Linked DNA regions of Homo sapiens: region 2 is linked to region 1. A link means that fine-mapping ties the variant in region 1 to the expression of a gene that starts in the linked region. Tissue or cell type: breast. Region 1 holds a variant in brackets; the other region holds the start of a gene. All regions are shown on one strand. Distances are from middle to middle.

Region 1 (5,378 bases):
GCATGCCTCCCATATTAAGTTTCCCTTTGAAAGCCCCCTGCCTTTTCCCTAGAAATTGGACATGGTTATTTTGGATGGGAATCTGGCCACTTGTCCATTATTAGTTTTGGTCAATGAAGTCACTTTCTCTCTACTGGACCTCGCTTTTGTTAATTGAACTATGCAATCAGCACTTACAATTGCTGGTTACAATTTTAGTGTCCCGTATGGTGAGTGCTGTATGCTCCAGGGCCTGAGCCTGCCAGTCTGGTTTCTATCAGATGGGGCATAGGGCCACCTGTGAATACTAGTTGCTGATGGCTAGCTGACCCATGGCTAGGATATTAGGGAATTTCCCAGCAGCTGCCAAGACTCTTTTGTCTTAGGGATCCTCTCTTTTCTTCCTGCTATGGTGTCTGCTACCTTCAATGCTTCACTGGTGCAAAGAAAGTGACCTCTGGAGAAGCTGAGAAACTATGGAACTAGGTGCATTAGTCAGAGTGTACCCAACCACCTTCTGCCTCTTTTGGGGTGTCGCTGGGGCTCTGCTTTATTTAGACTTGGCTGCCAGTGAAACTATATGAGCATTTTATGCATTGGTTTTGTTTGTATTTGCTGCACCCTTGGGCCTTTGCTCAGTTCTGACTCAGTTGCCTGGGGGAGCCATTTGAAACTGAAATGAGGGATTTCGGAGTCTACACAGCCCCTTAACCAGGGATTTGTTTGGATGCACACCACCTGTTTGTCCGTGTGTGAGATCTTTGTGCACCCTGATCTCTTTGTCTCTCTTTCTCTCTCTCTTTCCCCTTTTTTCCAACTTCATCATCCTGATTATCTCAGAAGCCATCTACAGCCCTACTCTTCTCAGCCAAAACCACCCTTCGCTCCCTCTGGCTGGAAACAGTTTACCTTGACTGGTGACTTGAGGAAATGGGAGGGATTCATCCCACACCCTTCAGTTCTAGGGTGCTGAGGCTCTCCCTAAGAGGAGATAAACAAGAGAGGTAGGGGTACTGTGCAGTGGCTGGAAGGCTCATAAACCTCCCTTCCTTCTTTTCTCTTTCCTCTTCCTGCCCATAAAACCTGACCTCCTTTCTCCTCTCCACTCCTTTCTTTTTCTCTTTTCCTGTTCAAACCAGGAAACCAGTACTGAAGAGAAAAAACAATTTTCAACATCCTGGCCCCTGATTTTGTCATCCTCTTTGGGACTGCAGCTGATTACATATGGTGCATTTTTGTGTACATTTTAAACTGACGGGCAAATTACAGCAAGAAAAATTTAGAGCTCAAATAGTTAACCTGAAGCTATAGAGTTAAGTAGAGTCTTCTAAAGCTATCTTCCCTCTTCCCCTCTTTTCTGCCTGCTTTAAATCTGCTGTTACTAAGCTGCTGGTGCTAGGACTCATTTATGATCTAACTAGAATGTAAACACTGGAAAGTTGTTTGAAACTGAAAATAAAAAATAACAAGGGTAAAAGCGGTTTAAAAAAACTGCCATAGAGACTCCTTTACCCAAAATTTTGGTTCACAAATTTCCTTGGATTACCTATTAGGGCAAATGAAGTTTGGCCATATGAACAGGTTCCAATTTTGTCAGAAAAAGAACTTGAAGCCAGCTATCTTTTGTAGGTCTGTGAGTTTGTAATGCTGTCTCATGGCTGGAGTTCCAAGGTAAAAGCTATTGGTTATTTCTTTGTGCATGTATGTATACATGTTTAGATATATTTATGTAATATTCATGTATTATGTTCTGCGTTGTGTCTAGCATGTTATCAAACTGGCTTATAAGTAAATGAGTACTCAAAAATTAAGTCCAAATGCTTTTCAAGTGCATGTGAATTTTTAATAAATAAAAGTGGTTTTAAAATTATTGATAAAAATAGAAAGGTCTTCAGAATTGTCCCCATACATTTTTGTCTAAGTGGTTTTATATTTGTATCAGTGTGTATACAAAGGTGTCAAGGGTTGACATAAAGGTTCTAAGACTTTAAACTCAACCAAAAACAGAATAATCTTTGTGTATTTTTTTTTGACAAATAAGACTAACTTGTTAGTTCAATGAAACAGCTAAATCTTCAGAGTCATCAGCAAATACATTTAATTTTAAGGTTCTTAATTAGGTGCTCACCATTTAGTGTTCAGATTTTAAAAATGGTTAATAGGGAAATAACTTTATTATTTATTTTTAATTTTTTTTTTTGAGATGGAGTCTCGCTCTGTCACCCAGGCTAGAGTGCAGTGGCGCAATCTTGGCTCACTGCAAGCTCCACCTCCCTGATTCACGCCATTCTTCTGCCTCAGCCTCCCGAGTAGCTGGGACTACAGGCGCCCATCACCATGCCTGGCTAATTTTTCTGTATTTTTTTAGTAGAGACAGGGTTTCACCATGTTAGCCACCAGGATGGTCTCGATCTTCTGACCTCATTATCCGCCCGCCGCAGCCTCCCAAAGTGCTGGGATTACAGGCGTGAGCCACCGTGCCCGACCCGGAAATAACTTTAAATAATGATTAGTTTTGTGTAATATCTCAGTTTTCAGAAGTAATCTAGATAAACTATTAAGAAATGGAAAAGGTGAATACATGTAAATGAGATAAATGCTTGTAAGTGGACTTTTTGTGTAAGTTAAAATCTTAAAATTATTTTGAATTAAATAATAGATGCTCCAATCCAATAGATAATAATTTGATTTCTGGGACATTTCCAATTAAGAAAAGATTATGATATGGGAAAACATATTTCTAAAATTGTAGAATGGTTTCATCCAGAAAATCCTAACATCTGATAAACAGTTCAGGATTTCTTGCTTCCTAAGTTTTCACTAAAATTTAAGGTTACTAAGAATTCTAATATATAATTCTGCAAGTTGTGTTCTCATTTTTTAAAAAAGAGTAATTTAAGTAATTCAAAGGTTATTTAAAAGTTATTTCTAAAAGAAGGTAAAAAAGAATCAGTGAGTAGGGGAGAGAGATATAAAGAAAGTTGTGGATACAAAAATGTATTTATAATAAAAAAGTTATAAAACAAGCAAATAATTTTACATGAGAAAGATTTTATATAGTAAATTCTTATCCTAAAATAAAATGGCTAGTTATTCAGAAAACAGAAAATTTTAGGACAAGTCAGAAAGTCCAAGCATGTAATAAATGGTCTATGTAAGTTATGATAAGGTTCATAAAAGGAAAATTACAAAAGCTATTTTATATATTAAGTTGGCTATAATTAGAAGGGAATTATTTTTAATAGTCTTTCTAAGATTGATCCCCTATCTTAAAACAAGGTTTTCTTAAGGTATTACTTTTCTCTTAATAAAATTACAAGAGATTTTTAAAATTTTAGAAACTGTTTCTTTTAAAAGCTTCTCAGAATCATA[T/C]CTCAGAAGTTCAACTATTGCTGTCTCACTGCTTTCAGCTTTTTCTCCCCCTGAGAAGGTCTGAGATGACAGCTCTCTCCTTCAGCTTCTAAATTAGCTTCTGTAACTTTTTTCCTCTGGTTCCACTGTTGTGGCCTGATGCTAAAATGTTTTATCTTAAAGGTCTAGAAAAGCAATATTTTCCTTCAGTATAATTTGATTCTGTACTCTTGGCTTTCTTGATAGATGTAAATTTTTCAATGTAATCAAGAAACTTCTCATGCAGTTACTAAGAACTATGTATTCCTCTGCTATACTCATAACCCTGAACACATTCTTCCTATGTCTGATTAAATTCAAGAATATTTTTCATCAGGTTTAACTTCCAGGTTGTCTAAATAGGCTTCCTATAAGGAAAAGTAGTCACACTGCAGGTTTTTCTTTGCCTTTCTGGTAACTGGCGTAAGAAACAACATTTTACTTTTTATCAAAATAATTCATATGTTGTCTTCATTAGATTTTTAACTGCTTAGAAAAACTGAGACCTAAAAGGCTGAAAGTTGTTATATGCATGTAACCTTCTGTATTGCCTTTAAGTCTTTCAATAATCATTTTGGTTAAATTAGTAACTATTGGTTTACAATGACCTGTGGATCTGTTTTAATCAAATGTTTTGAGCCCTTTAACATTTTTAAGAAACATCTTCAAAATTGAAACAAAAATTAAGTCTCTGGCTTATTGCTGGTGTTTATCAAAGCTATAAAAGTTAATCACTGCAAGGTTATAGAATCTTTTTACAGCTTCCAGTCAAGTCATAGACTCCAGTGTCACCACCTCCAGCCCCTTAAAAAAAAGGTCCTTATCAGGTGTTATTAACTAATCCTTGTGCTATGAAGTTACAGGGCTTTGACTCCTGGGTACACATATCTCATCTAAAGAAGGCAGTGACTCCTGCCAGTATCTGACAGCAAATCTAAGTTAACCGAAGCCCCATTTTTAGATCTGGGCAAAGATGACAATCATAGTAAACTACTTTCATGAGACACAGGGACACGCCTGTACCACAAAAAAATTAAGATTCTCTTAATAATTTTGCCTCTATCTAAAATAATATAATTTATTCTGTGCCTAAATAAATAGATACTAAATAATTTAAATGTTTAAATTTAGTGCCTAAATTGACACTAAATAATTTAAATGTTTAGCTACCTATAAGTTTCCTTTCCTGTAACTGTCAGAACTAGGCAGGGCTTATTACCTTTTTGTTTGAAACACTGCTAATACTTTACATTTTTTTTTACCTCCAGAATTTGAAACTATTGAATCCCTCCAGGCCCAGGGGCTATCGCAGAAGTGTATCATTGTAAGGGCCAGATTTTGAGGGATAAAATTAATTAAGACCCTCCAAATCAAGGACAGACACACAGATGCCTAAACAGCTGAACAATATGCTTGTGTTTTGTACAGCTAATTGCTATAAGTCAAGATTACAGTATCTCAATGCAGAGAATTTATAGATAACTCAACTTTATAATCTTATTTTTTGAGTTTTGGTTTTTGGCTCTTATGTTGCCTAAAAGGGGTTTTAAAGATTACTGAATACCTGCTCACCTCCACTCCCATCTGGCCTAAAACGTTTAATTGGATTTAAGTCTTTGACTCTAAGTTCCTTGGCAATAGGGGTCCCACTGAGAGGCACGATGGACCAGGGGCAAGTAGCCACACCATCCCAGAACTTAAGTTAATAAAAGCTTAGCTATGGATACCACCTCTGCATACCTTGACCAAAAAAGGGGGAATATAAACTAAAAAAAAAAAAAATCCTAAGCCCCCTCAACAGACTGAATGTATCCACCTCTTGGCCAAAGGGAATCCCAAAGAAACCTGACAAACTAGTTCAGGCCATTATGAGAAGTGGAGGGTTGGACATGCCACACTATACCTTCCCCCAATTTGGAGTTTAGGCACAAATGACCAGCATTAACATTAAAATAGAGATCACATAAGACTGACAAGACAGACTCTGTAGCAATAAGATACACACTGTT
Region 2 (5,378 bases), 140 kb after region 1:
AGGCGTACGCCACCGTGCCCGGCCTCAGTGTAGATATTTTTTAAAGCCAAGAAAGCCATAAGTATTGCACAAGTTATACACGTACCTGAATTTACATGCACACATAGATATCAGTTCATGGGACTCACTCTCCTGTTTAAGATATGACCAGAGGCTTGTAACGACAATGTAGAATTCTAAGACAGCACAATAAAACAATCATAAACTAACCACTTCCCTTTGCCAAGTTTAGCAAAGTGGATGGAACAGGAAAAAAGATGTTCATGATAATCCTATTTCATATAGATTAAGGCTGGATTAAGGTGCAGCCATTCAGATAAGGGGAGGGGTATTAAATTATCCGAAGGTCTCATTTGGTTACTATTATTTCTTAAGGCTTTTTTAAGGCTAAAGACGGCTGAAAGTCACTGGACACCTTTGTAGCCTTGTCATCTGGTCCTGGCCAGATCTGAGTTGAGAAAAACCAGCCTCAGATCCGCCTCTGCAGGAGTTGGGCGCTCCCCACTCCCTGCACGCCCCGACTCCAACACTGGCTTCAGCTTCAATCCCAGAAAAGTGGATCAAAACGACAGGTTCCACGAACAAACACTGCGCCGGCGCCTCTACTTTGGAGAAAAGGAAAAGGGCGTGAGGTTTCGGTCATTTTTGTCAAAGGAAATCAGATGAAAAGGGGTGTACAAAGGACCAGGTCTCGTGAGCGCAGCCAATCTTGTCCGCTCCCAAGCGACTCAGGCTCTTGGCAGGACTTGCTGTAGAGTCCCAGACGGAGTTAGCCACTGAGTCCTTCAGCGACCCAGGAAATAACAACACTGTTGGCAGGTGGGGGAGGGCGCCCGGGAAGATATCCAATAGTGGCGTCAGGCAAGAGGACAGAAATGCTCCTTTCATTCACCTTTCGAAGCAGAGCATTTGGTCCCCGTTGGCCTCTGACTCTCTGTTGCGGCAATCTAGATGTTACCAGAATTCCCGTGTTTCCTTCATATTCAAAGGCACAGGAAATCTGGGGTGCAAGCGGACTGCTGTCTCTCAAGGAATAGAAGTCTGTGACAAACGTATAGAAATGAGTTTCATGTTGAACAAGATCCGTTTCTGCGTTCCTCCCTCATCCAGCCTTGATTCTCCAGATGCTTACCAACTTCTTAATATTTACCTCAACTGCAAGGCTTTCAACCGGCGCTTTTGTTAGAATACTACTATCTTCCCATTAAAGCAATGTCCACACTCAGTTTGCTTGGTGAAAATGTTAATAACGCACACTTAGAAAAACGGTGATAACCGTTGCTTGCATAAAGTGGCCATTTGAATAGACTTTGGATCTGATTTAGAGATTTAGGGATGGATGTTTTAAAAAAAGCAAAAGTAGTAACAGACTATAGCATTGGTAATGTGTGTGTGCATATATACATATTATTTTTAAAAAAATAAAGTTCGATTATTTCACCTGGCTTGTCAGTCACCTATGCAGGCGTCTGAGCCCCCGGGTTTCCAGGAGCCCCCCGTATAAGGACCCCAGGGACTCCTCTCCCCACGCGGCCGGGCCGCCCGCCCGGCCCCCAGCCCGGAGAGCTGCCACCGACCCCCTCAACGTCCCAAGCCCCAGCTCTGTCGCCCGCGTTCCTTCCTCTTCCTGGGCCACAATCTTGGCTTTCCCGGGCCGGCTTCACGCAGTTGCGCAGGAGCCCGCGGGGGAAGACCTCTCGTGGGGACCTCGAGCACGACGTGCGACCCTAAATCCCCACATCTCCTCTGCCGCCTCGCAGGCCACATGCACCGGGAGCCGGGCGGGGCAGGCGCGGCCCGCAAGGACCCCCGCGATGGAGACGCAACACTGCCGCGACTGCACTTGGGGCAGCCCCGCCGCGTCCCAGCCGCCTCCCGGCAGGAAGCGTAGGTGTGTGAGCCGACCCGGAGCGAGCCGCGCCCTCGGGCCAGCGTGGGCAGGGCGCCGCAGCCTGCGCAGCCCCGAGGACCCCGCGTCGCTCTCCCGAGCCAGGGTTCTCAGGAGCGGGCCGCGCAGGAGACGTTAGAGGGGGTTGTTAGCGGCTGTTGGGAGAACGGGTCACGGAAACAGTCCCTTCCAAAGCCGGGGCCATCGTGGGGTGGGCGAGTCCGCCCTCCCAGGCCGGGGGCGCGGACCAGAGGGGACGTGTGCAGACGGCCGCGGTCAGCCCCACCTCGCCCGGGCGGAGACGCACAGCTGGAGCTGGAGGGCCGTCGCCCGTTGGGCCCTCAGGGGCCTGAACGCCCAGGGGTCGCGGCGAGTCCACCCGGAGCGAGTCAGGTGAGCAGGTCGCCATGGCGATGCGGCCCCGGAGAGCGCACGCCTGCCGCGGTCGGCATGGAAACGCTCCCGCTAGGTCCGGGGGCGCCGCTGATTGGCCGATTCAACAGACGCGGGTGGGCAGCTCAGCCGCATCGCTAAGCCCGGCCGCCTCCCAGGCTGGAATCCCTCGACACTTGGTCCTTCCCGCCCCGCCCTTCCGTGCCCTGCCCTTCCCTGCCCTTCCCCGCCCTGCCCCGCCCGGCCCGGCCCGGCCCTGCCCAACCCTGCCCCGCCCTGCCCCGCCCAGCCGGCCACCTCTTAACCGCGATCCTCCAGTGCACTTGCCAGTTGTTCCGGACACATAGAAAGATAACGACGGGAAGAGCGGGGCCCGCTTTGGGGTCCAGGCAGGTTTTGGGGCCTCCTGTCTGGTGGGAGGAGGCCGCAGCGCAGCACCCTGCTCGTCACTTGGGATGGAGACCGGCTTTCCCGCAATCATGTACCCTGGATCTTTTATTGGGGGCTGGGGAGAAGAGTATCTCAGCTGGGAAGGACCGGGGCTCCCAGATTTCGTCTTCCAGGTAACGTGGGTTTAGTATCCCGACTTGGAGGCTTGTCAGAATGTTTCTCTCCTTCCAGCCCAACACGAAGTCTTGGGATAAAAAGCCTCCCTCAGGGATTCAAATAACTGTTTTGATTCAGAGCAACTTTGATCGCCTGTGCGGTCGCACCTGCCCTTTCAGCCCCAATAATTACTGGGAAGATCAGCAATTGGTGTTAGTCCCATTGCTTGGTGCTCTCCCTCCTAGAGGTTCGCTGTGTCCTTGGAGCCCGGGGTGGACGGAATCGACTAAACAGCTTGTCTGTTTCTCTTTCCCTGGTAGCAGCAGCCCGTGGAGTCTGAAGCAATGCACTGCAGCAACCCCAAGAGTGGAGTTGTGCTGGCTACAGTGGCCCGAGGTCCCGATGCTTGTCAGATACTCACCAGAGCCCCGCTGGGCCAGGATCCCCCGCAGAGGACAGTGCTAGGGCTGCTAACTGCAAATGGGCAGTACAGGAGGACCTGTGGCCAGGTAATGACTCAGACGCATTGAGAATGATGCTTGTGGAGAACAGCTCTCCTGCTTTGGTGCCAGGTGCTTTTCTCTTGCCCTTGTACCTACAACTCCCCCTGAGTATTACAACCCTGGAATCTGGACTACAGGAAAGTTGATTGATTTATTTTCTTTCTTTCTTTCTTTCTTTCTTTCTTTCTTTCTTTCTTTCTTTCTTTCTTTCTTTCTTTCTTTCTTTCGTTCTTTCTTTCTTTCTTTTCTTTCTCTTTCTTTCCTTCTTTCTTTTTCTTTGTTTCTCTTCCTTCTTCCTTTCCTTTTTTTTTCTTTCCTTTCCTTTCCTTCTTTTTTTTTTTTTGAGACGGAGTTTCGCTCTTGTCGCCAGGCTGGAGTGCAGTGACGCGATCTCGGCTCACTGCAACCTCCACCTCCCGGGTTCAAGCGATTCTCCTGCCTCAGCCTCCCGAGTAGCTGGGATTTCAGGCACCCACCACCACGCCCGGCTAATTTTTGTGTTTTTAGTAGAGATGGGATTTCACCATGTTGGCCAGGCTGGTCACCAACTCCTGACCTCAGGTGACCCGCCCACCTCGGCCTCCCAAAGTGTTGGGATTACAGGCGTCAGCCACGGTGGCAGGCCAGTTGATTTCTTAAGATCACCTTGAGGGGTTCGGTTTTCAGCTAGAAATAGTGATTAGTTTTCTTTGTTATTTTTTCCACTATCAAGGAAATAGGTCTAGGAACTGTTTGGGTTATGTATATTAAAGTAATTTAAGGGCTGGGCTAAAAGGAAATGTGAATGCTTCCAAATAAACTGTGGAACTGGGGTTCCTCCAGGTTAGAGCAGTGTTCACATTGATGCAGGCTGTGCCTAAAGCAAACCTGGATAATCTTGGCTGTGTTCATTGCGGATAGTGTTAAAATCAGGATTAGATCAGGCTAGATTAGATTACTCCAAAATGGGTGCTTTGAAGGCAGACATCTTCCCAGTACTGACTAAGCAGCTATGCTAACAGGTAATGGTCCCTCAGATATTAGTTGTGTGAACTTAACTGATCATAGATACCTTAACCAGACTGAAAACTATACCTTTCCTATTTCATAAGTGAGAAAATCTGAAAGGTTTAAGCCTCTGCCAAAAGAAAGCTATGGTAGAAACTAGATTAGAAGCCTCTCATCTACTGACTCTTCACATGCTCTGTTCAAAGCTTTGGAGAAAATTGAGTGGAAGTGGTTTTAACAAATTTTAATTTGCTTAGCAATGTTTGCTTTTTAAAACTTAACGCCTGAGACTTGGTTCTTATGAATTGTCAGTTGTGCCTGTGTTGAATGGTCGCATTTTAAATTCCCAGTTGCTAACCTCTTATGTTACCTGGTGCCACTTCTGCATTTCCCTGTACCTATCCTCTACAACCTGCTTAGAAATCTATTTTGTACCTTCCCTTCTCTGTTTAATCCTCAGTAACCTCCTCCTTCATGCCCAGTCTCAGCTGATCACTTTGTATCTTATTTTCCTAAAAATATAGAAGCAAGCAGAAGAGAATCTCCACATGTCCCTGTGTGCCATATAATCTGCCATCTACATCCTGTTATGTGACTGCTATGTCCCTGCTGTCATGAGAGGTGCCCCCCCCCCCGCGCCATGCGTACAATATACTCGTGTCTTCTTGCTTCTTCAAGGATGTTACTCTAGCCACTTTTCTTTCTCTCATGAGTTTTTTCTTTTCTACTGGGCCAAATCTGTAAGCATACAAATATATTGCCATTTTCCCATCTTAAAAACCTTTCAACTAAACGCTCCCTCTGAGTATTACAACCCTGGAATCTGGACCACAGGGAAGAAGTTGACTTTGTAAAATCACCTTGACCGGTCCCTTTTTCAGCTAGAAATGGTGACGAATTTTCTTTGTTAGTTTTCCAATATCAAGGAAATAGGTCTAGGAGCTGTTTGCATTATGTCGATTAAAGTAATTTAAGTGCTTAAAGAAATTTAAGTAATGGGACAGAAGCTATCCCATTTAAAGCCACATATCTTGAGAGTTTGTCGTATCTTGACATATATA

Which allele goes with the higher level. Positions count from the first base shown, and alleles are read on the strand shown. Sizes are in standard deviations (SD) of each study's normalised expression.
As copies of T replace C in region 1, the expression in breast of the gene that starts at base 2,610 in region 2 goes down (small effect, 0.36 SD a copy in GTEx).

What was found. PIP is the estimated chance that this variant, and not a neighbour inherited with it, causes the effect.
Region 2: it holds the start of CCNA1, and the variant in region 1 is the best candidate, but not a certain one, in a credible set for the expression of CCNA1 in breast (GTEx, PIP 0.55).

Annotation. Positions count from the first base shown.
Region 1 is chr13:36,285,848-36,291,225 of GRCh38, forward strand. All of the region lies in intron 1 of CCDC169-SOHLH2 (CCDC169-SOHLH2 readthrough), which reads right to left. The region is part of intron 2 of CCDC169 (coiled-coil domain containing 169); the gene reads right to left. Among named protein-coding and RNA genes, the nearest start is that of CCDC169, 9.3 kb to the right of the region's middle. The variant T/C (reference allele first, on the strand shown) is at 3,352.
Region 2 is chr13:36,429,886-36,435,263 of GRCh38, forward strand. It overlaps CCNA1 (cyclin A1), which reads left to right and starts at 2,610. Exons shown (of 9, transcript NM_001413923.1): 1 at 2,610-2,844; 2 at 3,148-3,336. The coding sequence starts at 3,172. RefSeq lists silencers at 1,914-1,983, 2,264-2,313, 2,344-2,503.